Regions from separate parts of the Homo sapiens genome. Here region 2 is linked to region 1. Evidence: fine-mapped expression QTL. Tissue or cell type: thyroid. Region 1 holds a variant in brackets; the other region holds the start of a gene. All regions are shown on one strand. Distances are from middle to middle.

The links. PIP is the estimated chance that this variant, and not a neighbour inherited with it, causes the effect.
Region 2: TDRKH starts here. The variant in region 1 is fine-mapped to the expression of TDRKH in thyroid (GTEx, PIP 0.95).

Annotation. Positions count from the first base shown.
Region 1 is chr1:151,763,717-151,771,896 of GRCh38, forward strand. OAZ3 (ornithine decarboxylase antizyme 3) reads left to right here and starts at 2,939. Exons shown (of 5, transcript NM_016178.2): 1 at 2,939-3,172; 2 at 3,447-3,583; 3 at 4,342-4,517; 4 at 6,456-6,541; 5 at 7,361-7,614. The coding sequence starts at 3,006. The coding sequence ends at 7,503. It also overlaps a transcript of TDRKH not described here. RefSeq lists enhancers at 5,354-6,050, 6,051-6,745. The variant G/A (reference allele first, on the strand shown) is at 4,228.
Region 2 is chr1:151,786,255-151,794,434 of GRCh38, forward strand. TDRKH (tudor and KH domain containing) reads right to left here and starts at 4,246. Exons shown (of 13, transcript NM_001083965.2): 1 at 4,126-4,246. It overlaps TDRKH-AS1 (TDRKH antisense RNA 1), which reads left to right and starts at 4,495. Exons shown (of 2, transcript NR_146292.1): 1 at 4,495-4,991; 2 at 7,561-8,148. RefSeq lists a silencer at 3,931-4,190.

The sequences.
Region 1 (8,180 bases):
CTTCCTCTTGAAAGTGTGGGCTTTGCTGTAGCTCCAGTTGCTGGGCTAACTTTTAATTCTAACGTTCTGTGATGACTGGATACTGACCGGAGAATGAATGATGCTCTCACTTTTCCTTACTTCAAATCTACCTAAAAGTGGTAAAGGATGGGATCCCTTGGAAAACTCTGCCAGCTCCAGGAGGAGCCTGACCCTTAATCATTATACTGCAGTATTTAAGCTAATAAAGGAGAATTCTAAATCACAAGCTATGTAAACCGTAGAAAAAAAAGCAACTATGGTAAGGCCGCGACAGTTCCCTCTGGGGAGGGTCTCAGTACTGGACAGAAGACCATAAAAACTGGATGAAAGAAGGTCCATTTGGCAGAGATTATGGAAAGACTGGCCCTTAAACATACTGACCAGTCCTCCTTCCTCCTAAATACACTACTTGGCCTCCTGGACACCGGTCTTCTTCAGTCTCGTTTGCTGATTTCTCCTTTTCTCCCCGCTTCTTAGAATGCCCTCGGGACTCCGTTTTTGAACCTTTACTCTTCTCAGTATACACTCACTGTTGATCTCATCCAGTCTCGTGGCTTACAATACCATTTATAAGCCAATGACTCCCAAATTTCTAGTTCCATCCTAGACATCTCCCAAACTCGTCTCAAATATTCAACTGTTTATTCGTCATTTTCCTCTTACGTATCCAAAGGACACCTCAAAGTTAACTGTCCCAAACTAATTTATTTATTCCCCCCTCGCCCCCAAAACTGCCCCATCTGCAGCCTTTTTCCTCTCAGTTGACAGAAACTCCATTCTTTCCATTCTAACTCTTTTCTCTCATACTCCATCAGGAAATCCTGTGGGTTCTACCTTTAAATTACAGATAGTCCCTGACTTGGATTTACAATTTTTGAGTTTGTGATGGTGTGAAAGTGATGTGCACTCAGTAGGACATCAATAAGTTACATGAAATATTCAACACTTTATTATAAAATAGGCTTTGTGTTAGATGATTTTACCCAACTGTCGGATAAGTTGTCTGAGCATGTTTAAGATAGGCTAGGCTAAGCTATGGTGTTTGGTAGGTGTATTATATGCATTTTCAACTTATGATACTTTCAACATACGATGGGTTTATCAGGACATAACCCTATTTTAAGTCAAGGAGCACTTGTATTTCCAGAATCCAGCCACTTGTCACCACCTCCAATGCTCTACCTTGGAATAAGACACTACTTTCTCCTGGATTACTGCAATAGTCCCCTAAAAGATATCCCTTAATTCTCTACAGTTTATAATTCTATGTAGCTTATTTATAGCAGCCAGAATGATCTTTTTAAAGCATAAGTCAGATCATGTCATTCTTCCACCCAAAACTTTGTAATGACTTCCTCCTTTACTCAAGGTAAAAGAAAAAGGCCATCAGATGGTCTACAAGGCCATACATACTCTGACCCCATTAGCTCCTCTCTAATTTACACTGCTCCACCCACAGTGGCCTCCTTGTTTCTTGAAAACACCAGGCACGTTTCCTGCTCAGGGCTTTTGCACTGGCTGCTTTTGCGTTGGATGCTCTTATCCTCAGATGCTGGCTTGGTTAACAACCTCACATCCTCCAAGTGTTTAATTAAATGTCAGTTTTTTTCAGTGAGAGATCACCCTATTTCTTACTGTAACCCTGACCCATCCCCTTCACATTCCTTATCTTCCTTTATCTTGCTCTATTCCCCCCACCCCATAGCAGTTACCTTCTAACATACTAAACAATTTACTATGTTTATTTTCTAGGTTTGTCCTCTCACTTTTAGAAGATACGTTCCATAGGGCAGGGATTTGTTTTGTTCACTGATGTATCATCTCAAGCACCTAGAATAGTGCCTGGCTAATAGTAGACCCTCAATAAATATTTGTTGAATGGATAAATATGCAGAGGTCTCAAAGTGGCAGTCCCAGAACCAAATTTTGCTTACAATGTTGTTTTTTTATCAACAATTTTTTAGTAGTTGATTTTTTTTTTTTTTTGAGTTGGAGTCTCGCTATGTTGCCCAGGCTGGAGTGCAGTGGCACGATCTCAGCTCACTGCAAGCTCCGCCTCCTGGGTTCACGCCATTCTCCTGCCTCAGCCTCCCGTGTAGCTGGGAATACAGGCGCCTGCCACCACGCCCGGCTAATTTTTTGTATTTTTAGTACAGACAGAGTTTCATCGTGTTAGCCAGGATGGTCTCGATCTCCTGACCTCGTGATCCGCCCGCCTCGGCCTCCCAAAGCGCTGGGATTACAGACGTGAGCCACCGTGCCCGGCCCAGTAGTCGATATTTTTTAAAATTGGTGAGATTTACTACAAAACTGTCTTTCCAGTTTCTGTTCAAAAATCATACGATACAGCACCATCAAGTCTGCATTCTTGCATGGAACTGGATGGAATTGAGTTGTGTGGACTTCCTTTAGATAACGTGTGAGCTTTCCTATTTTGCTACAGCCCTACCCTGCCACTCCACTAATTTCCATAAGCTGTCTAGGCCCCTGAAGGGGCCTAGACAATTAGTTTGCAATTCCTACCCTACAAGGATCCTGGGTTATTAAGGGTAGGGATGATAATAAAAATACTCAACTGGTATGAACTGGGAACCAACTAATCAGGTCACCACTGGATCAGAGCCTTGGAAGAGTCAGATACCAACTCTTTACTTGCTGGATTTTGGGGGAAGGGGAGTGTCCACAGAGGAGCAGGGTGGGTGGGCACAAGTGCTCAGGCAGGGCTTTTGGCCAACCAGTACAGAAGTCTTCAAGTTCTATTTTTTAATCATTCATACAGCCATAACATGCATACTAGTCGAATATGAGCCTTGGATAAGGGATTAGGGTAGATAAGCAGCAGAGTGGAGTCCTGAGGTGACATAAGGGCTGACCCCTTATCCATGTCATAGTGCCCACTGGGTCACAATGCCACCAGGTTGCCTAAACCTCTGCCACCCACCTGTGAACTTCACTTTGCCACAGGGAGGCACTGAACTGAAAAACTGCCTTGTAAGAGGTGTCGCCCCTCTGTCTACTCCCTTTCTTATATCAAGAGGGGAAAAACACGTAACTACCTCTACCCGATCTGGTCACCATACGCCTATTACCTTTACTGTTACAAGTACCGGATCACTCTCCGGGAGAAGATGCTGCCTCGTTGTTATAAAAGGTACTTGTTTTCATCTCTATTTGTAGTTGTTTATATAAAATGTAAGGAAAAAGTAAAAGAATTTGAAAGAATTTCCCAAATGGCAAGAAATAACAACAGAATAGGGGGTGGAAAGCTGGCATGGAACTTTAGAATTTTTCCATCTGGTTGGGCCCAGGAACATAGAAACAGGCTGGACAACAGAAAATACAGAAGATCATGCCAGAGCCTGGTACTGTGTATCTTCCCACCTCAGATTCCAAGATAAACTAATTTGGGTCTCTTTCCCAACCAGCATCACTTATAAGGAAGAGGAGGACTTGACACTCCAGCCCCGTTCCTGCCTCCAGTGCTCCTGAGTCCCTAGTAGGCCTCCAGGAGGGCAAAAGCACCGAGCAGGGTAACCACGACCAGCTTAAAGAACTGTATTCGGTAAGTGGACTGTGAGCTAGTGCTGTGACAGGGCAACCCTTTTCTTGCATACCTTGCAGAGGAGGGACATTAGCAAGTTGGAAGATGAATTACAGAGGTAGATGGAATCTTGGAACGCATGTGTAAAAGCTACTTGCTATATAGACAAGCATTCTGGCCCACAGACTGTAAAATCAAGGTCATACAGATGGTAGTGAAAATCAGGATTGGGAAAAGAGGGAGTGGGGACAAAGGTAAAACAAACTCTGTAGGACTTCTGGGACATAAAGCTGTTTATGCCAAGATCCTGCTTAAAGATGCTAAGCAGGATCTGGAATCCAGAACTTGCCCACATATCATATTGCAATAACAAGCCTGGTTGTAACCATGGCATTTTAAATAGAAGAATTTAGAGAAAACCCATATAATGAAAAAAGTGGAAATTATTAGTGAGAAAGGAAGCACATTATAAAGCTTTGTTTAAATCCTAAGCTCTCTGATGTAAACATTTCTAAGTTCCTAAATGGTTATTGTACTCCTGGGTTGAAGTCAACAGGCAGTAATACTGCCTCAGCTGGATTGTTTGATATAAAGGAGAACTCCACAATAGGCATAGGCTATTAGTTCCTGGGACTAAGGGATATTATTGCATCTTTAAGATCTTG[G/A]CTCCAATTCTCCCAGGCTCTCCCCATCAATGCCCACCTTGCTTCAACGGACACACCCCCATCTGCCTGAGGTCTGATTTGAAGACTAGAGGAGCATTTTTACTCCTTTTCCAGGCTGGGAACTTGACGGTGCTGGCTACTGACCCCCTGCTCCACCAGGACCCAGTACAGTTAGACTTTCACTTCCGCCTTACCTCCCAGACCTCTGCCCATTGGCACGGCCTTCTCTGTGACCGTCGACTCTTCCTGGATATCCCATATCAGGCCTTGGATCAAGGCAACCGGGAAAGGTGACTGAGCCTGGATGGGAGAATGGGGAGGGAATAGGTAGGGGATTTCACCCTTCTATCATGTCATAGTACATAAGGCTAATTCTGGAGCTAGATATAAGCAATCCATTCACCTGGCATGCAGACAAGCCTGTGAGCTGAGCCAGGATCTGGGGTTCAAGGGATAAGAGTCCATGGGAAGCTGGACTCAGATCCAGAAATAGTTGAATAACGGGAAGTACTTTCTAGCTGTTCATCTCAGTAGTCCTTTCTCCCCAGACCCCTTCTGTGGCTTACATCCAGTGATGTGCAATCTCTTGGCTTCCAAGAAAAATCTACCAAAACTAGTTTAGCAACTTTCATTTCCTGGCTTGGGTGGGTGGAGGGCAGAAAACGACCAATAATATTTTTACTGCTCCAAGTAGGTGTCTTTCTGGATTCTGAGTTGGCCAAATTTTTTTTTCCCAGTATTTATTGATCATTCTTGGGTGTTTCTCACAGAGGGGGATTTGGCAGGGTCATAGGACAATAGTGGAGGGAAGGTCAGCAGATAAACAAGTGAACAAGGGTCTCTGGTTTTCCTAGGCAGAGGACCCTGCGGCCTTCCGCAGTGTTTGTGTCCCTGGGTACTTGAGATTAGGGAGTGGTGATGACTCTTAACGAGCATGCTGCCTTCAAGCATCTGTTTAACAAAGCACATCTTGCACCGCCCTTAATCCATTTAACCCTGAGTGGACACAGCACGTTTCAGAGAGCATGGGGTTGGGGGTAAGGTTATAGATTAACAGCATCCCAAGGCAGAAGAATTTTTCTTAGTACAGAACAAAATGGAGTCTCCTATGTCTACTTCTTTCTACACAGACACAGCAACAATCTGATTTCTCTATCTTTTCCCCACATTTCCCCCTTTTCTATTCGACAAAACCGCCATCGTCATCATGGCCCATTCTCAATGAGCTCTTGGGTACACCTCCCAGACGGTGTGGCGGCCGGGCAGAGGGGCTCACTTCCCAAAAGGGGCGGCCGGGCAGACGCACCCCCCACCTCCCGGAGGGGGCGGTGGCCGGGTGGGGACTGCCCCCCACCTCCCTCCCAGACGGGGCGGCTGACCGGGCGGGGGCTGCCCCCCACCTCCCGGACGGGGCAGCTGCCGGGCGGAGACGCCCCTCACTTCCCAGACGAGGCGGCTGCCGGGCGGAGGGGCTCCTCACTTCTCAGACAGGGCGGACGGGCAGAGATGCTCCTCACCTCCCAGATGGGGTCGCGGCTGGGCAGAGACACTCCTCAGTTCCCAGACAGGGTCGTGGCCGGGTAGAGGCGCTCCCCACATCCCAGACGATGGGCGGCTGGGCGGAGACGCTCCTCACTTCCTAGACGGGATGACGGCCGGGCAGAGGCGCTCCTCACATCCCAGACGATGGGCGGCCAGGCAGAGACGCTCCTCACTTCCCAGACGGGGTGGTGGCCGGGCAGAGGCTGCAATCTCGGCACTTTGGGAGGCCAAGGCAGGCGGCTGGGAGGTGGAGGTTGTAGCGAGCCGAGATCACGCCACTGCACTCCAGCCTGGGCAACACTGAGCACTGAGTGAACGAGGCTCCGTCTGCAATCCCGGCACCTCAGGAGGCCGAGGCTGGCAGATCACTCGTGGTTAGGAGCTGGAGACCAGCCCGGCCAACACAGCGAAACCCCGTCTCCACCAAAATACGAAAACCAGTCAGGCATGGCGGCACGCGCCTGCAATCCCAGGCACTCAGCAGGCTGAGGCAGGAGAATCAGGCAGGGAGGTTGCAGTGAGCCGAGATGGCAGCAGTACAGTCCAGCTTCGGCTTTCACAACTTTGGTGGCATCAGAGGGAGACCGTGGAGAGAGAGGGAGAGGGAGACCATGGGGAGACGGAGACGGAGAGGGAGAGGGAGAGGGAGCGGCCAAACATTTTAACTGTTTTTCTGTGGCTCCTAGTTTGACTGCAACCCTGGAGTACGTGGAAGAGAAGACAAATGTGGACTCTGTGTTTGTGAACTTCCAGAATGATCGGAACGACAGAGGTGGGGATCTGCTGTTCTTCCTTGCTTTTCGCGCTGAGGCAGCTGGATAACTCCTTTTCCTTTATAGGAGACCCTCTTCCCCTGTCTTTAAAAATGCACCCTCAGGCATTTCAGGGATTCTTTTCTTCCCACCTACCACGAAGGTGGGAAGTTGTAACTTGTTCCATCAAGTTACAACTGGACTCTGAGGAAGCCCCTGCAGGTGGTGTTAGGGGCCAGACTGAAGGAGCACTGGTGAAATTACACAGAATCCATTCAAGGGATGTGGCCAGCAGGACAAAATGGATCTCAAACATATGGAGCACCTACAATGTGAAAGGGTCAGACATAAGGCCAAGGGAACGGGGACATATTTAACCGGATGCCTGGAGCATATGTTACAGAAACTATAGCCTCTTGCCTCAAGGAGCTCAAACTCTGTTGGATATAAGGGATGGTGAATAACCATTCATAAGTGATAGATACTATTTCAGAGCTTACTATGTCATCATTGTATTAGTATATAGGTAGACCTCACTAATCTCTAGTGTTAAGCACTTCATGAACATCTCATTTCATCTTAAATTCTGTGAGGAGGAAGGTTCTATGATTTATAAATGGAAAATTCTATAGATGGAAACTGAAGTTCTGCAGGACTAACTCACAGAACAAGTGTTAAAACCAGAGTTAGAGCCTAGGTCTGTTGGACTAAAGCACATCCTATATGCCTGCACTACACTGCTTCCCAGGGCCACTCCCTAGTGGAAGAAATCAAATCTGGGGGCATACATGTATTGAGTTTTAAAGCATGTTCTAATCATTTGTTCTATCCTTTCACAGGTGCCCTGCTGCGGGCCTTCAGCTACATGGGCTTTGAGGTGGTCAGACCAGATCACCCTGCCCTCCCTCCCTTGGACAATGTCATCTTTATGGTGTATCCCCTTGAAAGGGATGTTGGCCACCTGCCCAGTGAGCCTCCTTGAACATGCTTATTCCAACGCTTTGAGGGGCTGGAAGCCTTGACACATGGAATCAGGGGCCCGGGATGTGATTCAGGACACTTTCCATCCTAGGAATAAAGGGTAGTGCAATCATCAAGTGTTCACGGTTTCTTGGGGGGGTGGGTAATAGGGTTGACTGGAGTGGGATATACACCTTAACAGAGCTAAATTCACTGAAAAGATCACAGGGACCTGAACTACGGAGGAAAGTACCTAAGGATTTTTGGTTCCCTTTGCCTTCCTCCATGCCCCAAACTATTTCCCCATTTATTCTAACCATTTACTGAGCACTAATCAGTGAACTTCCTAGTTCAGAAAGACTGAGCTTTGTTAGGCTGTTTTTATCCATATATTTCAGTTGAGGTGCTATAGATGTGGAGAAAACCAGAGAAGGCACATAGATCTCTTGGCTTTGGCCCAAGTTGGGGGATCTCAACGGACAGAATAGGTAACATAGAAGAGGGCATTCCAGGCAGCAGGAAAAGTACTGGGTTATACTAACAGAATGACAAAGAACCCATCAGAATGGGCTGTAAACAGGTAAGACTTAAAGGCATATTAAAGAAAAAGACTTTTATACATAGTAACAAACTGCAGGTAAGAATGAGACATTACTCATTTTCCAGGGTAGGAAGTCTTATGAATGATTTATATCAGGG
Region 2 (8,180 bases), 23 kb after region 1:
CCTCTCTTATCCTCGAGGAATATGTTCCAAGAACCCCAGTGGATGCCTTGGAGTACTGAAAACTATAGGTTTTTTCAATCTGATAACCAAGATGGCTACTAAGTGACTAAGAGGCGGGTAGCATATACAGCATGGATATGCTGGACAAAGGCAGGATTCTCGTCTGGGCCAGGATGGAGATTTCACCATGCTAGTCAGAATGGTGCACAATTTAAAACTTAAGAATTGTTTACGTATGGAACTTCCCATTTAATCTTTTTGGACCAGGATTGACTATGGGTAAGTGAAAGCAAAACCACGGAGAAGGGTAGACTACTACACTGTCATACAGATGACCAGAATTTGCATCTGGCCTCACAGCTTTACTGATCAACAGAACTGAATAAAGTTCTTCAGAGAACTACCAGAAGTTTGCCAAATCTATTTTTTCTATATCCTGGTTTTAAACAAATTTAATCCACCTTCTTGCCCGGACTCAAAAGCCTGAGCAAATAATAAAACGGCCTTTTACTACCCGAGGTGGGGGATGGGTACCTCTTTTCAAGGGTGTCGTCTATTTTGGGTCATTAGTTACTCAGTGAATTCAGTATATCATTTTTAGAGACTATCAATCTGAGGGAATACTGTTCTCTCCCGACCTTTTTAGAATGTAGGACAGAAAGGGTTGAGGTTAATGTAGGCTGTTTGTTTTCATTTATGAGGTTCTTTTCCCAAGTCATTGGATAAGCTTCTCTTTTTTTAAATACACTGCAAATAAAAGCTTTCACCATCCTGAAAGTTTGGATGGTATTATATAAGCATCGTTGTATATACCAAAGGAAAGGAAACAAGTTGTTTCATAAAGGAGATTTTTGACTTAAATAATTCTTGAATACACACCTCCCAAACTGCTACTTTCCTACATTGAGATGGTTTATTCTTGGTGTCTAGAAAGAATTTGACTTCTTTTGTCCCCTGATTACTTTAGATATATATATTTTTTGAGACGGAGTCTCACTCTGTTGCCCAGGCTGGAGTGCAGTGGCACGATCTCAGCTCACTGCAACCTCTGCCTCCCGGGTTCAAGCGATTCTTCTGCCTCAGCCTAATGAGTAGCTGGGACGACAGGCACCTGCCACCATGCCCAGCTAATTTATGTATTTTTAGTAGAGACAGGGTTTCACCATATTGGCCAGGATGGTCTCGAACTGCTGACCTCATGATCCGCCCACCTCGGCCTCCCAAAGTGCTGGGATTACAGGCGTGAGCCACTGCGCCTGGCTTAGGTATTTTCTTATATGACCACTAAAGTGCAAAGCTTGTTTCCATTATTAATGCATCTTGGTTAAATAGTGCTAGCTCTTTCTTGTGTGCTGAGCACGTTGGGGACAGAAGGAGGAAGAAGAATTTCTACTTGGAAATATTCATAGTCTAGGAAACATAAACACCAAAACAGGCTGGGCACAGTGGCTCATGCCTGTTAATCCCAGCACTTTGAGAGGCTAAGGTAGGAGGACTGCTTGAGACCAAGTATTCAAGACTAGCCTGGGCAACATAGTGAGACTCTGTTTCTACAAAAAAAAAAAAAAAAAAAAAAAAAAAAAAATTAGCTAGGCGTGGTGTTGCACACCTGTAGTTCCAGCTACTCAGGAGGCCGAGGTGGGAGATGGCTTGAGCCCAGGAGGTGGAAGCTGCAGTAAACTGATGACACCACTGCACTCCACCCTGGGCAACAGAGCGAGAATTTGTCTCAAGGGGTTTAAAAAAAAAAAGTATAGGGCAAGATGTGTGTAGGTTATATACAAATAATATGCATCTTATACAAGGGACATGAGCATCTATGGATTTGGGTTCTGCAGGGTTCCTGGAACCAATCCCCTGCAAATAACGAAGGGAGGGACAACTGTATAAATTCTTGGTCAATGCGACAGTTGAAAGTAGCTAGAACCTTAAGGTTTATTTCTTAGATGGTGTATAGTTGAAAATCATCTCATTAAAATACAACTCACTTTTCTTCCGCAAACCTATACTACATGAATGAACTGCACTAAATGGACATTTATTCAAGCCAATAAATATCGAATTCTGATGTGTGCTTGACCCTCGGGACACAACAGTCAAGATAGATTTGGCAGCTGCCTTCATGGAGTTTCCTGTCTGGCAAGGAAGATCTTGACAGGCAGGAGTCTTTAGGTCTTAAGGGCTTTGGGAAACTGAAATCTAGCCCTGTGAACAAGAATAAACTGGATCTGTATTTTCATGCTGTCTGCTTTTAAAAACTGGCCATAATTGATGCTTATGGGGCATAGAAATCACAAGATTTTATAACTAGAAGGGACTACAGAACTTATTTGATTCCATTAATAACGTTGCAATTTGGGAAACTGCGGCTAAGGGATAGAAAAGGATTGATCTAAGATCACACAGCTCATTAGTCATTTCTACACAATACAGTGTGCAATAGAAATAAGTCTGTTTTGATGGCCAGTCATAATCACACCTCTTTACAGAGGCCCAAAGGACTAGCAGCACTTTTGTTTTCCAGTTCTGACACTATCAAGATCAAGTGCAGAGGGGTCTCTGCAGCCAAGGCCCCTCAATCTCGACCCCCTACACTGGGTTGAATTACATTGCTATGGGTTTCCACAGAATCCCCAATATCCCTTGATAACACATGCCATGCTTGTCATTCTTGATTAACATCTGTGTCCGTGGTGAGGAGAATGAATTGAAGGCAGCAACCGTGGCTGCAGGAGACCAATCAGGGCCTAGTCCAGGTGTCAATGATGGAGATGGAGAACAGATGAATTGGAGAGTTTGTTGTTGTTTATTTAGAGACAGAGCCTTGGTCTGTCACCCAGGATGGAATGCAGTGAATGATAATAGCTCACTGCAGCCTTGAACTCCCGCAGTCGTCCGGCGTAGCTGAGATTATAGGTGCGGTTTTGGCCGACTTCTATTTGAAGCAAAAGGTAAATTTCACTAACTCCTCTTCAAACATTACAAATGAATTTGTGCTAATTGAGTTATCAGCTGATGTCTCAAAAAATGAGACTCTACTTGATCTGTCACTATGGTTTTGTTCACAATTTTCATATCCTTTCAGCTATAAGTTTCTCTTAAAGAGAAATGGAAAATAATATAATGTAAACGGGGATAACTGCATAGTACTGACTGCTAGCTTGTGTTTGATTTTATTACTTAAAAATTGAATGGGAAGGAGGAAAATACTAGAACTTAAGACCACAGTTTCTAGGGGAAGCTAAGAAGAGAAGATGAGGATCATTGTTCAGTGAGGAATGTGGTTAGATAATGGTTTTCAGTGAAAGCTAACTTTGAAATTTCCTGACATTTGTATTGAACAATTGCCAAAAACTATCTGATATGCATCGCTAAGGCTTACTTTATCATTTAAAATGACAGGAGTCAAATAGGATGTGATGAGAAGTCAAATCACATTGTTAGCTCCATGAAAGCATAGATAACTCATTCCAGTATCTCCTAATAACCAGAACCTACAAAGAACCTACAACATGGTGACATGCTTGAATCGAAGCAGCTCAATGTTCTCATCCTTGGTACGTTTATTTTAAATTCACGAGAAAAAAAAAAGTGTCAACCCCTTTCTCTCAAAACAAGGAAAGGGTCTAAAAGTCAGTCTTTGAAATAGGGGTCTCCAGCCAACCCCCACGATGATACCTGGATTAAGGAATGAGGGATACTGGAAAAACAAAAACCCCAATGTATTATTCTGACGACTGTAAACAGCCATCCTATTAGCGATAACTAAAGAAAAAGCTGGGGAAAGTTAAAGGCAAAGTGATATACGGATGGCAGCTCTCAGTCTCAAAAAGGCCCAGTGGAAGAGTCTGAACTGACTCAGGGCAAACACAAACGCTCCCGCACCGGGTCCGTTGTGGCGTAAGCGGGTGACTGGAGCATCTTCCTCAGATACAGTTACGAGTTCCCAGTGGGTCAAGTTGCCCCCGAGCGGCGTCTCACAGCCCAGGGCTCTGACTCCCCCGCTGCGCCCCACATCCTTCCCTCGCCCCGGGGCACGCCAGACCCCTCCCTTCCCTCGCTCCCGCATTTCCGTCTCCTAGTGGCCAGGGCTGCCCATGACCCTGTCTTTCCCACTCCCCAAACCTTCGGTCTCCATCCTCGCCTTTACCGCTGCTCCAGTCAGCCGTCGAGTGCGCCGCCTCGCGCCTCACCCCAGCTGCAGCCACCAGCGCCGCCGCCTCCCACTCACACCACCACAGTGAGCCCCGCCGGCGGCGCTTCAGCCGCCACTTCCCCGCCCCCGCAGCCCGACAGCACCAATCAACACCCTGCTCGCAGTCCGACCAATCGCCTTCTCCCGTCACAACCAATCCTTCCGCGGGCTGCCCCTGAGCGACGTGGCTGCTGCTAGCCGCTGCCCAATTACCCGGATGGAATCCAAAGCAGGCCCACCCTGTCAGCCAATAAGATCCAGGAAAAGCAGATGTTGTTAACTGAGACCGCACCTGCTGAGAATTAAACAGCCAATTACAAGCTTCCCGGCGTCCTCGCAGACCACCTCTAGGCCAATTACCGAGGAGTTTTCTATCTTCTAACCCTTGGAGGAAAATCTGCGCTCCAGCAGCTGGGACCGAGGCATGAGAGCGTTGAATCATGAGTGGCACCGTTCGCAAAAATTGGTGTCTTTGTACAAAGACAGTGCCACAACACAACTCAGTGACCATCGGGAGAGCAGCCTCATGATGGGCGATGCTCCATCAGTTTTCTCTTGCGATCTTTTGCATAGATCGGTCCCGCCCCGCATATGGCGATGAGGACTCAAGAGACACGGAAAACGTTTTCTTTCTGGAAAACATGAAATAGGCTTTGTAGATGGACAGGAAGTCAAGGGACAAGCGGTGCGCCGCAGAGAGCGAGGACCCACTCTTCTATTCCTTTGCGGAGGCACGGACACACGGTGTGGCCCGAAACAGCGGCAGGAGAGTGAGACCCGGGCTCCGACCGCGGTGGTAAGGGGGCGGCGGGCCATAGGGGCGCCAGGGGCCCACCCTTCCCTGGGGATTCGAGGAAACGGGTCGAGGCGACAGCGTGAAGGCCTACGCCGGGGGAGGGGGTGGTGGCGGGGGGCGTTTCTGTGGGGGCGAGGAAGGGAGCGGGTCTCCGCAGGCGGAAGTTTGCTTTGGAAGATTTTATTCCAGACGCTGTCCTGGTCCCTGGACGGTTAGGAACGGTTGGGTCCTGCTACTGCCTCCGTGGGGCAGGGAGCCTCGCGAGACCAGCACTGCGCCCTACTCGGTCCACCCTGTCCCCGCTCCGCGCTAGGGGCTCACCCTGGGAACAGGGGTCGGGCGATCCTGGTCATTGGGGGATCTTCCGCACTAGCTTCCATCACAATACCTGGCAGGTGATGAGCAATAAATATTTGCTGAAAGAACGCAAGGTTGTATCTTTTGTCAATTAGGCAGATGCCTTTGGGCCTCAGGTTTTGCTTTCTATTAATATAAAAATGTGTATGCGTTTTGAATAAGTAATACATTTACATTCTACAAAATTCAGAAGAAACAAGGTTATTATAGTGAATAAATTTTCCTTCCTTCAAGGCAACTAGGGTTACCAGTTTCTTGTGAAAAATTTCACAAGATATTCTATAGTTAACGTGTGTATATGTGTAATATATAAAGTGTATATATATATACACACACATATATTTTTTTAACCCAGTTGATAACATACATACTATTTTGCAACTTTCTTTGATACAGTCTGGAAATGTTTCCGTAGCAGCATATACGTATCTGCCTCATAGTGATAGTTTCATAGTATGCCTGAGGGATATATGAAGATATATTTAACCAGTCCTTTAACATTTGATTGATATGCAAGGATACTTCATTTCCCTCTTGCATATGTGTATGATAAATACTTAGAAATGCAAGTGCCAAGTTAAAGAAATGTGTGCATTGTTTTTTCATTTGGATAGATAAAATTTTGTAAATTCCCTTCCTCCCACAAAGATTTTTATAATTTTAATCCCACCAGCAATTTTTGAAAATGATTTTAGTTAGTATTACCAAATTGCCTTCCCTGGAAATTTTACCAATTTTGTCTCCTGTCAGCAATGTATGAAAAGAACCTGTTTGATAGCACACTGGTGCTGTTAAACTTCCTGATTTTTGACAATCTGATAGTGTAAATGCTATCTCATTGCAAGATAAAATTTCATTGCTCTTATAAGTAAAGTTGAGCATCTTTTAATATATTTAAATGGCAATTTTTTTGTAAATTCTCTGTTTTTATATTCTGTTCATATTTTTATTGGTTATAGGGTCATTTCTTAATACTTGCTGTTTGTATATAAGTTAAAAGTATTTTCCCCGGCCAGGTGTGGTGGGTCACGCCTGTAATCCCAGCACTTTGGGAGGCTGAGGCAGGCTAATCACCTGAGGTCAGGAGTTCAAGACCAGCCTGGCCAACATGCTGAAACCCCGTCTTTATTAAAAATACAAAAATTAGCCGGTTATGGTGGCAAGCGCTTGTAATCCCAGCTACTTGGGAGACTGAGGCAGGAGAATCACTTGAACTGGGGAAGCGGTGGTTGCAGTGAGCCGAGATTGCCACTGCACTCCAGCCTGGGCAACAGAGCGAGACCCCATCTCCAAAAAAAAAAAAAAAAAGTATGTCCCTTTTCCCAGTTTGTTCTATGTATATTGTTTATACATATAACAAGTATTTTCCCTTTTCCAAGTTTGTTCTATGTATATTGCATATTTTGAGGCTGGTCTCCAACTCCTGACCTCAGGTGATCAGCCTGCCTCAGCCTCCCAAAGTGCTAGGATTACAGGCCTGAGCCATTGCCCTCAGCCTGTTTATGGTTATTCTTTGCAAATGTTAAAAATTTTTATGTAATTGAATTTATCAATATTTTCTTTGATAATTTCTGGGTTTCTTTCTTTCTTTTTTTGAGGCAGAGTCTCATTCTGTCGCCCAGGCTGGAGTGCAGTGGCATGATCTTGGCCCACTGTAACCTCTGCTTCCCAGGTTGAAGAGATTCTCGTGCCTCAGCCTCCTGAGTAGTTGGGATTACAGGCATGTACCACCATACCTGGGTAATTTTTGTATTTTTTAGTAGACTCGGAGTAGTTTTGCCATGTTGGCCAGACTGGTCTCAAACTCCTGGCCTCAAGTGATCCACCCGCCTTAGCCTCCCAAAGTATTGGTATTACAGGCGTGAGCCACTGTGCCTGGCCAACTTCTGTGTTTCATATAATTTTTAGTAAAGTCTCCCACTATTTAAGATTATTCTTAAAGCTCCTATGTTTTTTTAAAAAGTACTTTGATAGTGTCTTTGTATATGTAAATATTTGATTCATCTGGAATTTATTTTGGTGTAAAGGTGTGAGATAGAGATCCAATTTTGTTTTGTTTTATTCAAATCCTTCTTATTGAATAACCCATGTTTTCTCCATTGTTTTTGAATGCTACCTTTATAATACCAAATTGCCATATGTATTTGGGTCTATTTCTGGATTTTTTTCATTTTGTTCCATTGATCATTAATTTTTTTTTTTTTTTTTTTAGACGGAGTCTCACTCTGTCACCCAGGCTGGAGTGCAGTGGCACGATCTCGGCTCACTGGAACCTCCAACTCCCTGGTTCAAGCGATTCTCCTGCCTCAGCCTCCCGAATAGCTGGGACTACAGGTGCCCACCACCACACCTGGCTAATTTTTTGTATTTTTAGTAGAGACGGGGTTTCACCGTGTTAGCCAGGATGGTCTCGGTCTCCTGACCTGGTGATCCGCCCGCCTCGGCCTCCCAAAGTGCTGGGATTACAGGCATGAGCCACTGCGCCCGGCCTAAAAATTTTTTAAATTGTATACATTATGGTTTTTTTTTTTACCACAATTTAAAAAATTAATTTATAATATACATGCAGAAAAATGCACAAATGACAAGTATATATCTTGATGAATTTTCACAAATGGAATACATTTGTGTAACCAGCAGCAGATCAAGAAACAGAACATTGCTAGTGCCCCAGAAGCCACTTGTGTGTTCCCTCTCAGTCACTGCTCTTCTCAAGGACAACCACTCTTCTGACTCCTGATACCATAAACTAATTTTGCCTGTTCTTGCTTTTTATATAAAGAGAATCACAGAGTATGTACTCTTTTGTGTCTGGCTTCCTTTGTTCAAATT